Linked DNA regions of Homo sapiens. The protein of the gene in region 4 interacts with the protein of the main gene of each other region in a pairwise test. Each region holds a gene or a part of one and is shown on either strand. Other genes may lie near its edges.

Region 1 (4,170 bases), on a different chromosome or scaffold from region 4:
CATCCCAGTGCTCTTCAAACTCCAGCTGAATACCCCTGCGATGGGAACCTCACTGCAACACAACACTTCCTATCACTTTGGCAGAAGCCAAGAGCAGCACCCTGGTTTGTTTGATGCATTTGGGCTAAAATGGGAAACCGGTACCCCTAGTATTCCCAGTCTCCCTCCCCACCTGTGTTCATCCTGGGAGGAGGGTAGCAGGAGCCTGGCTTGACTAGTTAAAGGCCCGAGTTAGGGCAGCTGCCTCCCAGGCTTGGCTGCCAAAGAGGGAAAGTTGTCACTGAGTCTGCCAGGATGTGTGATAACTTCTCATTAGTGGCTTCTTGGTGCCGTTCCCAGTTCTCTGATTTGAGCAAGATGAGTCAGGAGCCCGAGGGTGCTCGGTGAGTACGTGGTGACTGATTGTTACTTTACACTTAAGCCTGAGGAAACCCAGCCAAGATTCAGAGGCACTTGTTCATTCAAATCCCAAGTCAAGAGGTTGAGAGTCAACCAGGGAGGGGGGAAAAACACCATGGCTCAGGTGGGCTTGGCAGCACACAGGTGCCCAAAGCAGAGGGCTTCCCCTCCAAGAAACTTCAGGAGATAAGGAAAAATCAGAAAGTAAAGGGCTTCAGCTTGAGCATTTTATATGCAAACAGAAGGGAGGACAAAATAAGGATAGGGGCAAAAAGAGGAGACCACTGCAGCTGTACTCCCTCTCAGAAGAGATGGGACTGCTTCTGAGAGTTGAGCCAGGCAGAGATGGACAGGCCATTCAACGTGAGATCTGGAACATAACTCACCCCGGCACCACTGCACCACTCTACCTCTGCTGTGTGGCTCTCGAGAGAAAAAAATGCAGTTGCCACTAGTGAGTGCTTGGCAGTCACACTAGCCCAGGAAATGCAGAAGGGAAGGGGGCTACACTTCTGAGAGTTGACCAAGTGGCAGGTGTTTCATACCCATGCCTTGGGGATTTCCATGATCCATATCCTGTCCATTAAATCCTCACAATAACCCTGCGTGATCATGTTGTCCCCATTTTACAGAAGAGGAGGCTCAGGAAGATTCCATAAATTGGGCAAAGTCACTAAAACAACATGTGGCAGGCTTGGGAATTTCAACCCACGCCTATCCAACCCCATACCCCACGTTCCTCCCCCTCTGCTTCCCGGGGCCACTTCAGCGGGACTTCCAGCCTCACCTCCTCATGGTTCTTTTTGAGGCACATCAGCTCCTCCTTCAGGGACTCAACCTGGGCCTCCAGGTCAGCCTTGCACAGAGTGAGATCATCCAGGATCCTGCGCAGGCCATTGATGTCGGCCTCCACCAGCTGCCGCATGGCCAGCTCTGCCTCGTACCTGCACAAGGACAGGGTCAGCAACCAAGGGTGAAACAGAATGCAGAACTCAGGGAAGGCCTTAAACTGCCGGCACTTTCCAACCCTCCGTGAAACTAATGGAAAGTTGCCCCAGAGCCTATGAGGACAGGTCCTCCCCAGCTCCAGCCCCCCGACTGAACTCACTTGGCCCTGAAGTCATCGGCAGCCAGTTTGGCATTATCAATGTTCACAACCATCCTGGCATTCTCTGCCTTGGTACACAGAATCTGTAGGCCAAGGCACATGGAGAGGGTTAGTTCAGGATGAGACGAAGCAAGAAGAACCCAAATGAAGAGAAGACAGCAGCAAAGGTAGGATCCAGCAGCCCTGCAGCCATCCCTGCAGAAGGTCCTCTTCCCTGGAACTCTGGGAGATATTTAGCGAATTGCTAGTCCTTGGAGAACTTGAGATGTATTTTTTAAGAACCTGAAGCTTCGTAAATTCAAATTCCCCATTTTGGATGTGCCAAGCAATGTGGAAGGGAAGAATCTCATGTCTGAAGTCACTCATGTGACAGTTAGAAGGGTCTTTGACATTTACTGAAAACTTACCGTGGACCAGGGGCTGTTCCAAGCACTTGACCTGCATCATCTCATCAAATCCTTTTGACAACCCCATTAGATAACGACCATTATTATCCCTGTTTTACAGATGAGAAAACTGAGGCCTGGGGAAGGGATGGGACCCCCAAAGTCATGCAATGAGGCAATGGTAGAACTGAGACTAGATCCCAGATCTCTCCACATGAAAGCCTCAGGCTGAGTGCTCAAATTATAAAATAACCCTATGCCCTAGGGAAGTCTCTTTGTCCTGAACATAGCTTAATAAGCTAACGAGATTCCAATCTGGAATGCCAGCTAGTCCAGTTCCCTTCCCAGAGAGCCTATTCACCTCACCGCTGCCCTCACCTTCTGCTGGAGCTCCTCAATGGTCCTGAAATGAGACTGGTAGTCAGGAGTCATGGTGAGCACCTGGGAGTGAGAGGCCTCTTGGATCCTGCTCTCCAGCTCCGCATTCTCCTGCTCCAGCTGCCGCACCCTCGTCAGGTAGCTGGCCAGGCGGTCGTTAAGGAACTGCATGGTTTCCTTCTCATTGCCATTGAAGGCCCCTTCGCTGTACCAGCTGCCGGGGCCCATGGAGCCGGAGATGCCACTGGCTGCCTGGCAGGAACTGGATAGATAGGTTTTGGAGAGGCAGCTGGCTGGCCGGAAGGTGGTGGGCAGGCAGACCGAAGGCAGGCATGCCATGGGCTGGCAGACATAGCCCAGGCACAGCTCAGGCCGGCAGTTCACGCCGCTGGAACAGACCGAGGCAGGCCGGGGGCAGCTCTTGAGAGAGGCTTGCAAGTTGTTGGTGACACAGCAGGAGGATGTCATGTTGGAGAGGCCCTTTCTCCTCAGCCACAGCTACCTGGATGTCTACAGACCCCATGCCGCCCGGGCCATTTTATGCCCTTGCAGTGAGGGGGCTCATGATAGAAATTCATCATTGGGTGGTGTTGATGTTCACACCCAGCCCCAGAGGAAGCTGCTAATTAATTTGTAATTTGGTTTCCAATAAAAGAGGCCAAACTTATCATTTGGCTAAAGCAGGAGTCTGGGTTCCTGTCATTGATCACCATGAGAGAGCTTCAGGACACATCTTCAAAGGGTCAGCCGCATGCCTGGGCCCTCATTACTAGGGCAGGCCCTCCAGGAGACTGCCACAACCCAGCCTGTGCCTCCACTGGCTTTGCCCACTGCACCCCCGCCTGCTCTAGCCCTGAGAAGCCTGCAGGTCTGTGCAGCAGTGGCTGCCTCTTTTAATGAAAGCATTCCCCATGGGAAGAGGCCTGGCTATTTAACAAGGAAATGTGTGGGTGGTAGAAACTGCTCCGATGCTGGCAGCGGCATAAATCCAGCAGAAAGGAACAGGAACCTCAGAGGCTTCCTAACAGACATCATCTTCCTGCCAAGGGGAAGAAAATAATATCAGTGGGGAGAGAATGAACTCAAGACATAGGCAGCATCACTTCTCAGCCTTTTGGCTAAGATCAAGTGTGGTATCTGTTCTTATCGTCTTAATATCTGATACGTCCTCCATCTGAGGACAACATATTAAATGGATTTTGGGAGCAGGGAGATGGAATAAGAGCTTGCTCTGTTCACTCTACATGTTGACCTGGTATTGCAGTACCTCCAGGAATGCTGCACCCCTTCAAAAGGCAAAAAAAAAAAAAAAAAAAAGACCCAAACAGAAGCCTAAGAATCAGGTACATCTTTCCAGTTGGTCTCTTCCTCTTGGAAAAGTCCATATCATGAACATCTCCAGGTGGCAGCTGCTCTGTCTTGACCCCCTCTGGACCATCCATTCAATTATCACTGCACCATATACACAATTGTCAAGTGCTCAATAATTGTTTGTTGAACAGACTGAGAATAGTTGGAACAGGTTCTACTTTTACTTTCTGTTGTGGCAGATGGGGAAGGCTCACTTCAGGATCTCAGACTATGGAAGCAGTGTGAATCCACTCCCTTGGGAAAGGATGTTCTATAGCCCTGGAATGAGCTAAGCCAGGAGACAGGGAGCATATTTGCCCAACTATAGAAGCCCTGGGCATTCACTTAAGAAGGCAACATGCTAGAGCAGTGGTTTTCAGTCCTGGCTGCAAAAGCTGTGAGCTTCACATTTAGTATGTGTGTGCTATATAGCCACTTTTTTATTCAGTAATCTTCTTGATATAATTTTGGGGTATAAGTACTTGCCTTATGTTTCACATATTCCCAGAAATGTCAGTACAAGAACAGGAAAGGGAAAATGCCACCCAG
Region 2 (3,500 bases), on a different chromosome or scaffold from region 4:
AGCAATTAAATTATAACCAAAAACAAGTATGGGATTTATAGTTAAAACTGTTAATAATTGGTTTTTCAAGATATAAAAATAGCATGCCCTCAGCCTGGCATGGTGGCTCACACCTGTAATCCCAGCACTTTGGGGGGCTGAGGTGGGTAGATCACCTGAGGTCAGGAGTTCAAGACCAGCCTGGCCAATGTGGTAAAACCCCATCTCTACTAAAAATACAAAAATTAGCCAGGCATGATGGCACGTGCCTGTAATCCCAGCTACTCGGGAGGCTGAAGCACAAGAATCGCATGAACCTGGGAGGCAGAGGTTGCAGTGAGCCAAGATCGTGCCACTGCACTCCAGCCTGAGCAACAGAGAGAGACTCCATCTCAAAAAATAATAATAATAATAATAATAATATCATATCCTCAAATAAGTTTAAACTGATAAAAACAGATTAAAGCTTTTCTGATATTAATGAATAGTGTAGTTGTCTATTGCTACCTATATTAGTCTGTTTTCACACTGCTGATGAAAACATACCCAAGACTAGGCAATTTGCAAAAGAAAGAGGTTTAATAGACTCACAGTTCCACATGGATCGAGAGGCCTCACAATCATCATGGAAGGTAAAAGGCACATTTCACATGGTGGTGGCAGGAGAGAATGAAAGCCAAGCGAAAGGGTTCTATAAAACCATCAGAACTCACCTGGACTTATTCACTACCAGGAGAACAGTATGGGGGAACTGCCCCCATGATTCAAGTATCTCCCACTGGGTCCCTTCCACCACATGAGGGAATTACGGGAGCTACAATTCAAGATGAGATTTGAGTGGGAATACAGCCAAACCATATCATTCCGCCCCTGGTTCCTCCCAAATCTCATGTCCTAACATTTCAAAACCAATCATGTCTTCCCAACAATCCCCCAAAGTCTTAACTCATTTCAGCATTAACTCAAAAGTCCACAGCCCTAAGTCTCATCCAAGACAAGGCAAGTCTTTTCCACCTGTGAGCCTGCAAAATCAAAAGCAAGTTAGTTCCTAGATACAATGGGGGTACAGGCATTGGGTAAATACAGCCATTCCAAATGGGAGAAATTGGCCAAAATGAAGGGGCCATAGGCCCAATGCAAGTCCAAAATCCAGCAGGACAGTCAAATCTTAAGGCTCCAAAATTATCTCCTTTGACTCCATGTCTCACATGCAGGTCACACTGATGCAAGAGGTGGGTTCCTACATCTTGGGCAGCTCTGCCCCTGTGGCTTTGCAGGGTACAGCCTCCCTCCCAGCTGCTTTCACGTATCAGTGTTGAGTGTCTGAGGCTTTTCCAGGAGCATGGTGCAAGCTGTCAGTGGATCTACCATTCTGGGGTCTGGAGGATGGTGGCCCCCTTCTCACAGTTCCACTAGGCAGTGCTCCAGTAGGGACTTTGTGTGGGGGATCCAATCCCACATTTCCCTTATGCACTGCCCTACCAGAAGTTCTCCATGAGGGCCCCATCCCTGTAGCAAACTTCTGCCTGGATATCCAGGCATTTCCATATATCCTCTTAAATCTAGGCGAAGATTTGCAAACCCCAGTTCTTGACTTCGGTGCACTCACAGGCTCAACATCACATGGAAGCTTCCAAGGCTTCGGGCCTGCGCACTCTGAAGCCATGGCCTGAGCTCTACATTGGCCCCTTTCAGCCAAGGCTGGCGTGTCTGGGACACAGGGTACCAAGTCCTTGGACATAGCATGGGGACCCTAAGCTTGGTCCATGAAACCATTTTTTCCTCCTAGGCCTTTGGGCCTATGATGGGAGGGGCTGCCATGAAGACCTCTGACATACCCTGGGGACATTTTCCCCATTGTCTTGGGGATGAACATTTGGCTCCTTGTTACTTAGGCAAATTTCTGCAGCTGGCTTGAATTTCTCCTCAGAAAATGGGTTTTTCTTTTCAATTGCAGGGTCAGGCTGCAAATTTTCTGAACTTTTATGCTCTGCTTCCCTTATAAAACCGAATGTGTTTCAGGCACATGTATGTTTATATGGTACTATTCACAACAGCAAAGACTTGGAATCAACCCAAATGTCCAACAATGACAGACTGGATTAAGACAATGTGGCACATTTACACCATGGAATACTATGCAGCCATAAAAAAGCATGAGATCATGTCCTTTGCAGGGACATGGATGAAGCTGGAAACCATCATTCTGAGCAAACTATCACAAGGACAGAAAACCAAACACCGCAAGTTCTCACTCATAGGTGGGAACTGAACAATGAGATCACTTGGACACAGGGTAGGCAACATCACACACCAGGGCCTGTTGGGGGATGGGGAGCTGGCGGGGGACAGCATTTGGAGAAACACCCAATGTAAATGATGAGTTGATGGATGCAGCAAACCAACATGGCACATGTATATACCTATGTATCAAACCTGCACTTTGTGTACATGTACCCTAGAACTTAAGGTATTAAAAAAAAAAAACTGAATGTGTTTTAACAGCAGCCATGTCACCTCTTGAAAGCTTTGTTGCTTAAAAATTTCTTCCACTGGCTGGGTGCAGTGGCTTATACCTGTAATCCCTGCACTTTGGGAGGCCGAGGTGGGTGGATCACCTGAGGTCAGGAGTTCCAGACCAGCCTGGCCAACATGATGAAATCCTGTCTCTACTAAAAATACAAAAAATTAGCTGGGCGTGGTAGTGCATGCCTGTAATCCCAGCTACTCAGGAGGCTGAAGCAGGAGAATCACTTGAACCCAGAGGTGGAGGTTGCAGTGAACTGAGATCGTGTCACTGCACCCCAGCCTGGACAATAAAAGCAAAACTCCGTCTCAAAAAAAAAAACAAAAAACTTATTCCATCAGATATCTTAAATCATCTCTCTCAAGTTCAAAGTTCGACAAATCTCTGGGGCAGGAGCAAAATGCCGCCAGTCTCTTTGCTTTTGCTACAGTTCTCAACAAGTTCCTCATTTCTATCTGAGACCACCTCAGCCTAGATTTTATTGTCCATATCACTATCAGCATTTTGGGCAAAGCCATTCAATAAGTCTCCAGGAAGTTCCAAACTTTCCCACATTTTCCTGTCTTCTTCTGAGCCCTCCAAACTATTCCAGCCTCTGCTTGTTACCCAGTTTCAAAGTCACTTCCACATTTTCAGGTATCTTTTCAGCAGCACCCCACTCTACTGTATTAGTCCATTTACTGTGTTAGTCTGTTTACTGTGTTAGTCCGTTTTCACGCTGCTAATAAAGACATACTTGAGACCAGGCAATTTACAAAAGAAAGAGGTTTAATGGGCTCGCAGTTCCACGTGGCTTGGGAGGCCTCACAATCATCGTGAAAGGTGAAAGGCACATCTCACATGGCGGCAGCAAAAAAGAATGAAAGCCAAGCAAAAGGGGTTTCCCCTTATAAAACCATCACATCTCATGGACTTATTCACTACCATGAGAACGGTATGAGAGAAACCACCCATGATTCAATTATCTCCCACTGGATCCCTCCCACAACATGAA
Region 3 (4,154 bases), on a different chromosome or scaffold from region 4:
GACCCTGTCTCCAGGGCCCTGGGGCACCTCGGGTCCTGAGTGGCCATGTGCTTAGATGCCCACCTGCGTGGCGAACCATTGCTCCACTTCCCTGCGGTTAATTTCCACCAGAGCCTCATACTGACTCCTGGTCTCGTTCAGGACCTGGTTCAGGTCCACAGTGGGGGCAGTGTCCACCTCCACGTTGAGGCGGTCTCCAAGCTGGGAGCGCAGGGTGTTAACCTCCTGTTGGAGAAAAGGGAAACAATGAACCTACGGCAATGGATCTGCCATTTTCCTGCTCCAGGGAAATGAGCACAATACTGCCCAAAAAGCACTAAAAGGAATATTCTGATCATTCCCAAAGAGTGACACACACATTTTATAGCAATAAACTCCAACAGGGATCACATCAATTGCTGTCCCATGGAAGATGTGCCATCTTCCTGCTCTGGGAAAATGAGCTTGATGCTGCCCAGAAAGCACTAAAAGGGGCCGGGCACAGTGGCTCAAGCCTGTAATCCCAGCACTTTGGGAGGCAGAGGCAGGTGGATCACGAAGTCAGGAGATCGAAACCATCCTAGCCAACATGGTGAAACCCCATCTCTACTAACAATACAAAAATTAGCTGGGCGTGGTGGCATGTGCCTGTAATCCCAGCTACTCAGGAGGCTGAGGCAAGTGAATCACTTGAACCAGGGAGTCGGATGTTACAGTGAGCCTAGATCACGCCACTGCACTCCAGCCTGGTGACAGAGCATGACTCCGTCAAAAAAAAAAAAGCACTAAAAGGAAGATTCTGATCATTCCCAAAGAGTGACACACACATTTTATAGCAATAAACTCCAACAGGGATCACGTCAATTGTTGTCCCATAGAAACGGAAACAACCTCACACCTTCTACAAGACTAAGTCTAAACTCCTTGGCATATGCAAGTCCTTCCTCGCTTCCCATCACATCTTCACTTTCATCCCTTGGAGGTACTGCATGCCCAGCCATACCCAGATACACCCTGCCCTGCCACTTCTGTGTCTTTGTTCAACCTCTTCCCTCAGACTGAAACACCCAAGTACTGGAATCCTCCTCTTTGCATCTGAGAAGAGTTCCCTATCTCCTCTTGGGCAGCCTGGATTATTTCTAGAGCATACTGCTTGTACATCTCATATGGTACTTGTTTCACTCTGTCTTGTTTATATCACTGTGTTTATATGACTGTCTTTCTATACTAGACTGTGAGCTCTTTTAAGAAAAGGGCCATGTCTTATTTCTTTTTTGTCCCTCCATCTCCACCACCAAATTCAGGACCTAGCAGTGATCAGCAGAGAGCAGGGCTCAATGAATGATGTCCCTCCTCAGTAATTCCAACACCTGCCTAACCCTCACCCAGCCGCTGAAGAATGAGCAGCTCACTCCACTCCTTGATATGGATGTAGCACCGTCACTCTCTGAGAACATCTTGAGTTCCTCAGAGAAGGGTCCCAGACCAGGGATCCAGACAGTAATCCTCTCCTGATTCCCAGTGCTAGTAGCTTAGTTCTGAGGCCTGCTTTTGTGAATTTGTTTCATACCTCCTCATGGTTCTTCTTCAAGCAGATCAGCTCCTCCCTCAGGGACTCCACCTGGGACTCCAGGTCAGACTTGCAGAGGGTCAGCTCATCCAGGATCCTGCGTATGCTGTTGATGTCCGACTCCACCAACAGCCTCAGGGACTGCTCCGTCTGGTACCTGCACGTGTCGGAGTGGGAGGATAAGTCAGGAAAGAAAACCACCTTCCCCTCTCATGTGTTGTTTGGGTAGAATTGGCCTGAATCTTCTTGAACTTACAGTTTTCTGCCTCTTCTCTTCCATATGCTTCAGTCAAGCTGTCCATGGATAGGCTGAAGAGGTTCCCTGACTCACCTAACACCACGAGGAGCCCACAGGCACACATGAGATGAAGTCTCTCACTGTGTTCTCGGTTTTGTTAGCTAATATACCACCAAATCAATTCCCAAAGAACAATTCATTTCAATCTCTGAATTTTGTGGTTTAAGAAACACTTCCAAAAAAAACCAGTATAGACCAAAGAGCAGGCAGCACATGAGTCTAGTTCCCTATTTGAAACTAATTTTACATAACCAGCCCTAGGAGGAGAAATAGAGAGAAATGGCTTTCTCCTCTCTTCCAGGCAATAGTAGGTCCCTAGGGCCATGAAAGAACCATAGGGACCTTGAAGTTCAACATACTTGCTTCTGAAGTCGTCAGAGGCCAGCTTGGCATTGTCAATGTTCACCACCAGCCTGGCATTCTCAGCCTTGGCACACAGAATCTGAAAAGAAATTTCTCTCATGAGGTACACTTGAACTTGAAAATGTCTTACTGTTCAAAGAGAGCCAGCTGCTGCTGGCCCCCCATATGGCCAACCCCCTCACCTTCTGCTGGAGCTCCTCAATGGTCTTGAAGTAGGACTGGTAGCTGGGGCACAGCAAGGGCTCCTGCTGCTGGGACCGCTCCTGGATGAGTTTCTCCAGCTCCGCGTTGTCCCGCTCCAGCTGACGCACCTTCTCCAGGTAGCTGGCCAGGCGGTCGTTCAGGAACTGCATAGTCTCCTTCTCGCTGCCATTGAAGGAGCCCTCACAGAACCAGTTGCAGTTGCTCACATTGGCGGGGATGTTGCAGGCCCCAGGCAGGGTGTAGCCGTGGCAGCTGGGGGGCACGCAGGGCCGGGAGGAGCAGCTGGTGCGGCAGCCCAGGCTGGGCAGGCAACAACTGTAAGACATGGTGCTGGAACAGGTAATGGAAAAGCAGGTAAGCTGCTGGAGGTGGATGTGGGCAGGTTTGAGTCTCTCCTTCCTCTGCAGTCCTTTTATACCATTAATTGTGGGTGGGGGCTTGGCATACAGCATAGTTTCCTTTCCTAATGCTTCAGCTAATTTTTCTCCAAAATATGCTAGTTAGATGCTTCTAAAGAGTCCCCCCTCAACCCATAAAATTATTCCATTCAGCTTATGTCACACCAGGCTCTTCCTGGGTGCTAGTGGTTGGTGAAATCAGAGTTTCATCAGATGGCTTCATAGGAGATAGAATCATCACAGCCCCAAAAGGCTGTCTGCATTACTCAGAGGGGAGGACAGCCAGGGACATGGGGTGGAGTTGTTTGGGAATCAGGGATTCCTCACCCAGGAGTTTCCGCCACTGTTCTTTCTCCCCAGAGAGAGAGCTCTGAGAGAGAGCTTTGAGAGTTACTCTTCCAAGTAGCTCTTTCCTCCCACATTCATCCATGTTTCAGCATTCAATTTGTTTTTATAGCAGAAACTCAACCTGTATTCGCCGAAATGATCCTGAGCCTTACTATTCGTTGGGGTTTAGGGAACTTGCCAACACATGGAGCAACTGAAAACAATGGCATGTTCATGGTTGAGAAATGAGAAAGTAAAATGGAAACCAATGGAATGGATGGGAGTATACCTAAAAGAGGGCATCTGCAAATGGCAGCCCACACGTCAAGTTTACCCTGCTGAATTTTTGTAAATAAAGTTTTTGTTTGTTTGTTTTCTGTTTTTTTTTTTTTGAGACAGAGTCTCACTCTGTCGCCCAGGCTGGAGTGCAGTGGCACGATCTCGGCTCACTGCAACCTCCACCTCCCGGGTTCAAGCAATTATCTGCCTCAGCCCCCCGAGTAGCTGGGATTACAGGTGCCCGCCACCACACCCGGCTAATTTTTGTGTTTTTAGCAGAAATGGGGTTTCACCATGTTGGCCAGGCTGCTCTTGAACTCCTGAACTCGTGATCCGCCCGCCTCGGCCTCCCAAAGTGCTGGGATTACAGGCGTGAGCCAATGCGTCCGGCAGTAAATAAAGTTTTAATGGAACACAGCCATGCCCATTTGTTTAGCTATTGTATATGGCTGCTTTTGTGCTACAGTGGCAGAGTTGTGTAGTTGTGACAGAGACTATAGTGTCCACAAAGCCCTAAAATTAAAAAATTTGCCAACTTGTACTAAAGCAACAGCCTCTCTAAAGATGAGCAAGAGTAGAAATATCTAGAAGAAAAAATATGCTGGAAACAGTCTGGAGCAGTGAGAGTTCAGATGGCAGCACTGAAGCATGAATATGAAGCATAATACTGCAGACTCACCAAGAAACGAAAATTGGAGCAAGGGTGCTCAGAGGTATCTTTGTATCCATGGTGGCT
Region 4 (3,500 bases):
AAAATACAGCATACTACCAGACACAACGTAGAGTTTCTCATTTGAAACCACTTTACAACAGCTTTCAGCCCATGGGTAACACTCTCTCTTCTCCTCCCAGATTTCTCTGCGGTTGGGGTATATCTTCCACGCACAGTGTACACACTGACCAGGAAAGCAGTTATGTCCTCCAGGTCACGGCTGTCATCTACCCCGAGGGGGGAAACGTGTGGGAAGAGCCTCAGGCACCAAGAGGCTCTCTGCAGCGTTTCTCAGAATGGCTTCCAATTAGAACAACACAGCACACCCATAAGAGGGAATGGAAAGGCAGCGGGTGACAGAGGACAGTCCGTGATACAGCCCCTGACATGCCGTTTATAAAGATGTAACAGCATGTCACAACGCTTGAAGCCAAATAGCACAAGACAGTAAGAAATACATGTAGAAAAAATGTCAGGCATAGAAACAGAAGAGCAGACAGAAGCAGCAGCTACGGCTGCATACAGGATGGGCTCTGGGGGACTTTTTTCCATTTCTACTTCCTGTACTTCTGAATTCTTTTCTACTAAGCTCATATTACTTTTTCAATGATTTTTAAAGCCCACTTAAAATGACCAGAGAAGACTCTGTTCCCAGAGCATCTGGCAGGGTGACTGACCATGGACTTCCAGACACCTGCCCAAGACCCAACAGCCGGTCCACATCGCCGCAGCTGGGATTACCTCGCTCATCAGTCTGTCCCGTGCGCTGCGCTCTCGGGCCCACTCTGCCTCTCTCTTTTCCCACATCTCCTTGGCCTCCTCCCTGGGCAAACACAAAAGGGATGACAGCAGGCTCCTCCCCGCCCTGGCAGGAAGCGAGCTACGGAACAGACAGGGCTGCAGGGCACATGGCTTCTGCAGGACCACACTGCAGATAAACATCCACATGCACTTTGAAAAGATTACAATTAAGGACAGCATCCACGGAAAGTACTGTTGGAAGTTTTTCATTTTTTTTATTTTTGAGATGGGTCTCGCTCTGTTGCCCAGGCTAGAGTGCAGTGGTGCGATCTCGGCTCACTGCAACCTCCACCTCCCAGGTTCAATCGATTCTAGTACCTCAGTCTCCTGAGTAGCTGGGATTACAGGCATGTGCCACCATGTCTGGCCAATTACTGTATTTTTAGTAGAGACAGGGTTTCACCATGTTGGTCAGGCTGGTCTTGAACTCCTGATCTCAAGTGATCTACCTGCTTTGGCCTCCCAAAGTGCTGGGATTACAAGCGTGAGCCACCGTGCCTGGCCCTGTTGGAAGTATTTTAAGTTACCCTTTTAATACCCCATCTCCTTATAAAAAGGAATTGGGATGACTTACACCGTGGCTGTTTAACACAGAGATGAATGAAACCATCAGAACATGGAGAGGAGGGCGCTGCCTGTGCCTGAACCCTGCCACCGCATGCCTGTGTCACTGATAGCTCACCCTGGACGGAGTGACCTCTTCAAGTCTCCGGGTCTCACAAGCCACCACTTGGCTGGATGTCAGGACTCAGTAAGATGAGGCCTGTAAAGCACCCGGCACAGTGTCCAGCATGCAGTAAGTGCTCAATGTATGCTACTTATTATTTGATGATTTCAATCTACTAGTTTAGTCTTTAGGACCCAAACTCAGTTTTATAGATGTAAGCAGCATTCAACATCTCTATAATAACTTCCTTCTGGCTGGGCATAGTGGCTCACGCCTGTAATCCCAGCACTTTGGGAGGCCAACGCTGGCGGATCACAAGGTCAGGAGTTCAAGACCAGCCTGGCCAAGATGGTGAAACCCCATCTCTACTAAAAATACAAAAAGTAGCCGGGTGTGGTGGCGGGCGCCTGTAATCCCAGCTACTCGGGAGGCTGAGGCAGAGAATTACTTGAACCCAGGAGGCAGAGATTGCAGTCAGCCGAGATCATGCCACTGCACTCCAGCCTGGGTGACAGAGCAAGACTCTATCTCAAAAAAAAAAAAATAATTTCCTTCTAAACCTCTAAGATTTCAGATGAACACATCGTTACTCTAAACCTTAATGATTTCCACCTCAGATAATACAAGGGAAACACCCCCAGAGGCCAGGTCCATTATGAAGATGTGCTCCTCAGGAATGATGGACAACATACACAGCTATCTCTTCTTCTTCTTTTTTTTTTTTTTTTTTTTTTGAGACAGAGTCTCGTTCTGTCACCCAGGCTGGAGTGCAGTGGTGTAGTCATGGCTAATCGGAGCCCCAACCTCCTGGGCTCAAGTGATCCTCCCACTTAGCCTCCCGAGTAGTTGGAACTACAGGTATGAACAACCACGCCTGGCCAATTTGTGTATTTTTGGTAGAGCCTGGAGTTTTGCCATGTTGCCCAGGCTGATCTCAAATTCCTAGGCTCAAGCGATCCACCTGCCTCGGCCTCTCAAAGTGCTAGGATTACAGGTGTGAGCCTCCACGCCCAGCCAATAGATATTTCAGTAACAGGTGACCCATGGGGCATTTCAAGGTATCAGAGTTGAGGCCAGGAGCATCCAGCCCAGTCAGCAGCTGCCACTCACCTCAGCAGCATCTGCAGCTCTGCCTCCCGCGCCCGCTCCAGCTGCAGCTGCTCCTCAATGGCCTGCTTCATCCAGGCCACATCGGCCATGACCTGCTCCCGCCTGGCCAGGTGGAGGCGCTGGCTCTCGTCCTCCTTCTCGAGGAGGGCCTGCAGGATCCGCCTGTCTGCCTCCTAGAGGAAGCAGAGGGCGGCACGTGGCTGGGCTGGACAGAGTCCTTCTGCAATGAGAGCCTACAGAGGGGCCTGCCCTCCCTTTCCTTTCTACATAGACATTCGTGATTCTACACAGTGTTCTCAAGACAGAGATGGGAAGATCCTGGATTATTTCTGGAACAGACTGGGGATAATCACGAGGGGTGGTTCAGACACTGCACAGGCCTAGGAGCTTCTCTCTGGCTAAAGGGAGACCCAGCCACCACCACATGCCCTCGGATACACCTGGTTGCACAACTTTTTGGAATACAACTTGGCAAAAATCCCACTTATAAGAACAAAGACCACAGTGACACAAAAGTGCAAAACACTCGTTGCAGCTTTTAGGTAAGAGGGAAAAACCAGAAACAACCAAAATGCTCCTTGGTGGGGAATTAGCTACTATGTACATCAACATAATGGAAGCATTAAAATAATGCAGGAGGCTGGGCACTGGGGCTAATGCATGCAATCCCAGCACTTTGGGAGGCTGAGGTGGGAGGATCACTTGGGCCTAGGAGTTCAAGACCAGCCTGGGCAATGTAGCAAGACCCCATCTCTACAAAGCATTGTGATGTACACCTATGGTCCCAGCTACTCGAGAGGCTGAGGTGGGAGGATGGCTTGAGCCTGGCAGGTTGAGGCTGCAGTGAGCCGTGATTGCGCCATTGCAATCCAGCCTGGACAACAGAGCAAGACCCCATAAAAAACAGCTGCACACCAGGACCAACCATGCCACTGTGCCCCATGTCCTGCCCTGACCGCAGT

The links.
Region 1: the proteins of TCHP (region 4) and KRT32 interact in binary tests that used the Homo sapiens proteins (3 or more experiments, as listed by UniProt).
Region 2: the proteins of TCHP (region 4) and MIPOL1 interact in binary tests that used the Homo sapiens proteins (3 or more experiments, as listed by UniProt).
Region 3: the proteins of TCHP (region 4) and KRT34 interact in binary tests that used the Homo sapiens proteins (3 or more experiments, as listed by UniProt).

The regions. Positions count from the first base shown.
Region 1 is NC_000017.11:41,464,587-41,468,756, forward strand, and holds the start of KRT32 (keratin, type I cuticular Ha2), read right to left. Parts: upstream 2,801-4,170; 5' UTR 2,740-2,800; coding exon 2,272-2,739; intron 1,591-2,271; coding exon 1,508-1,590; intron 1,344-1,507; coding exon 1,187-1,343; exon of another isoform or gene 173-1,186; intron 1-172.
Region 2 is NC_000014.9:37,204,437-37,207,936, reverse strand, and holds part of MIPOL1 (mirror-image polydactyly gene 1 protein), read right to left. Parts: intron 1-3,500.
Region 3 is NC_000017.11:41,379,507-41,383,660, forward strand, and holds the start of KRT34 (keratin, type I cuticular Ha4), read right to left. Parts: upstream 2,801-4,154; 5' UTR 2,745-2,800; coding exon of another isoform or gene 2,741-2,744; coding exon 2,393-2,740; intron 2,290-2,392; coding exon 2,207-2,289; intron 1,707-2,206; coding exon 1,550-1,706; intron 226-1,549; coding exon 64-225; intron 1-63.
Region 4 is NC_000012.12:109,910,274-109,913,773, reverse strand, and holds part of TCHP (trichoplein keratin filament-binding protein), read right to left. Parts: intron 2,712-3,500; coding exon 2,539-2,711; intron 784-2,538; coding exon 702-783; intron 1-701. UniProt on the Homo sapiens protein: Tumor suppressor which has the ability to inhibit cell growth and be pro-apoptotic during cell stress. Inhibits cell growth in bladder and prostate cancer cells by a down-regulation of HSPB1 by inhibiting its phosphorylation.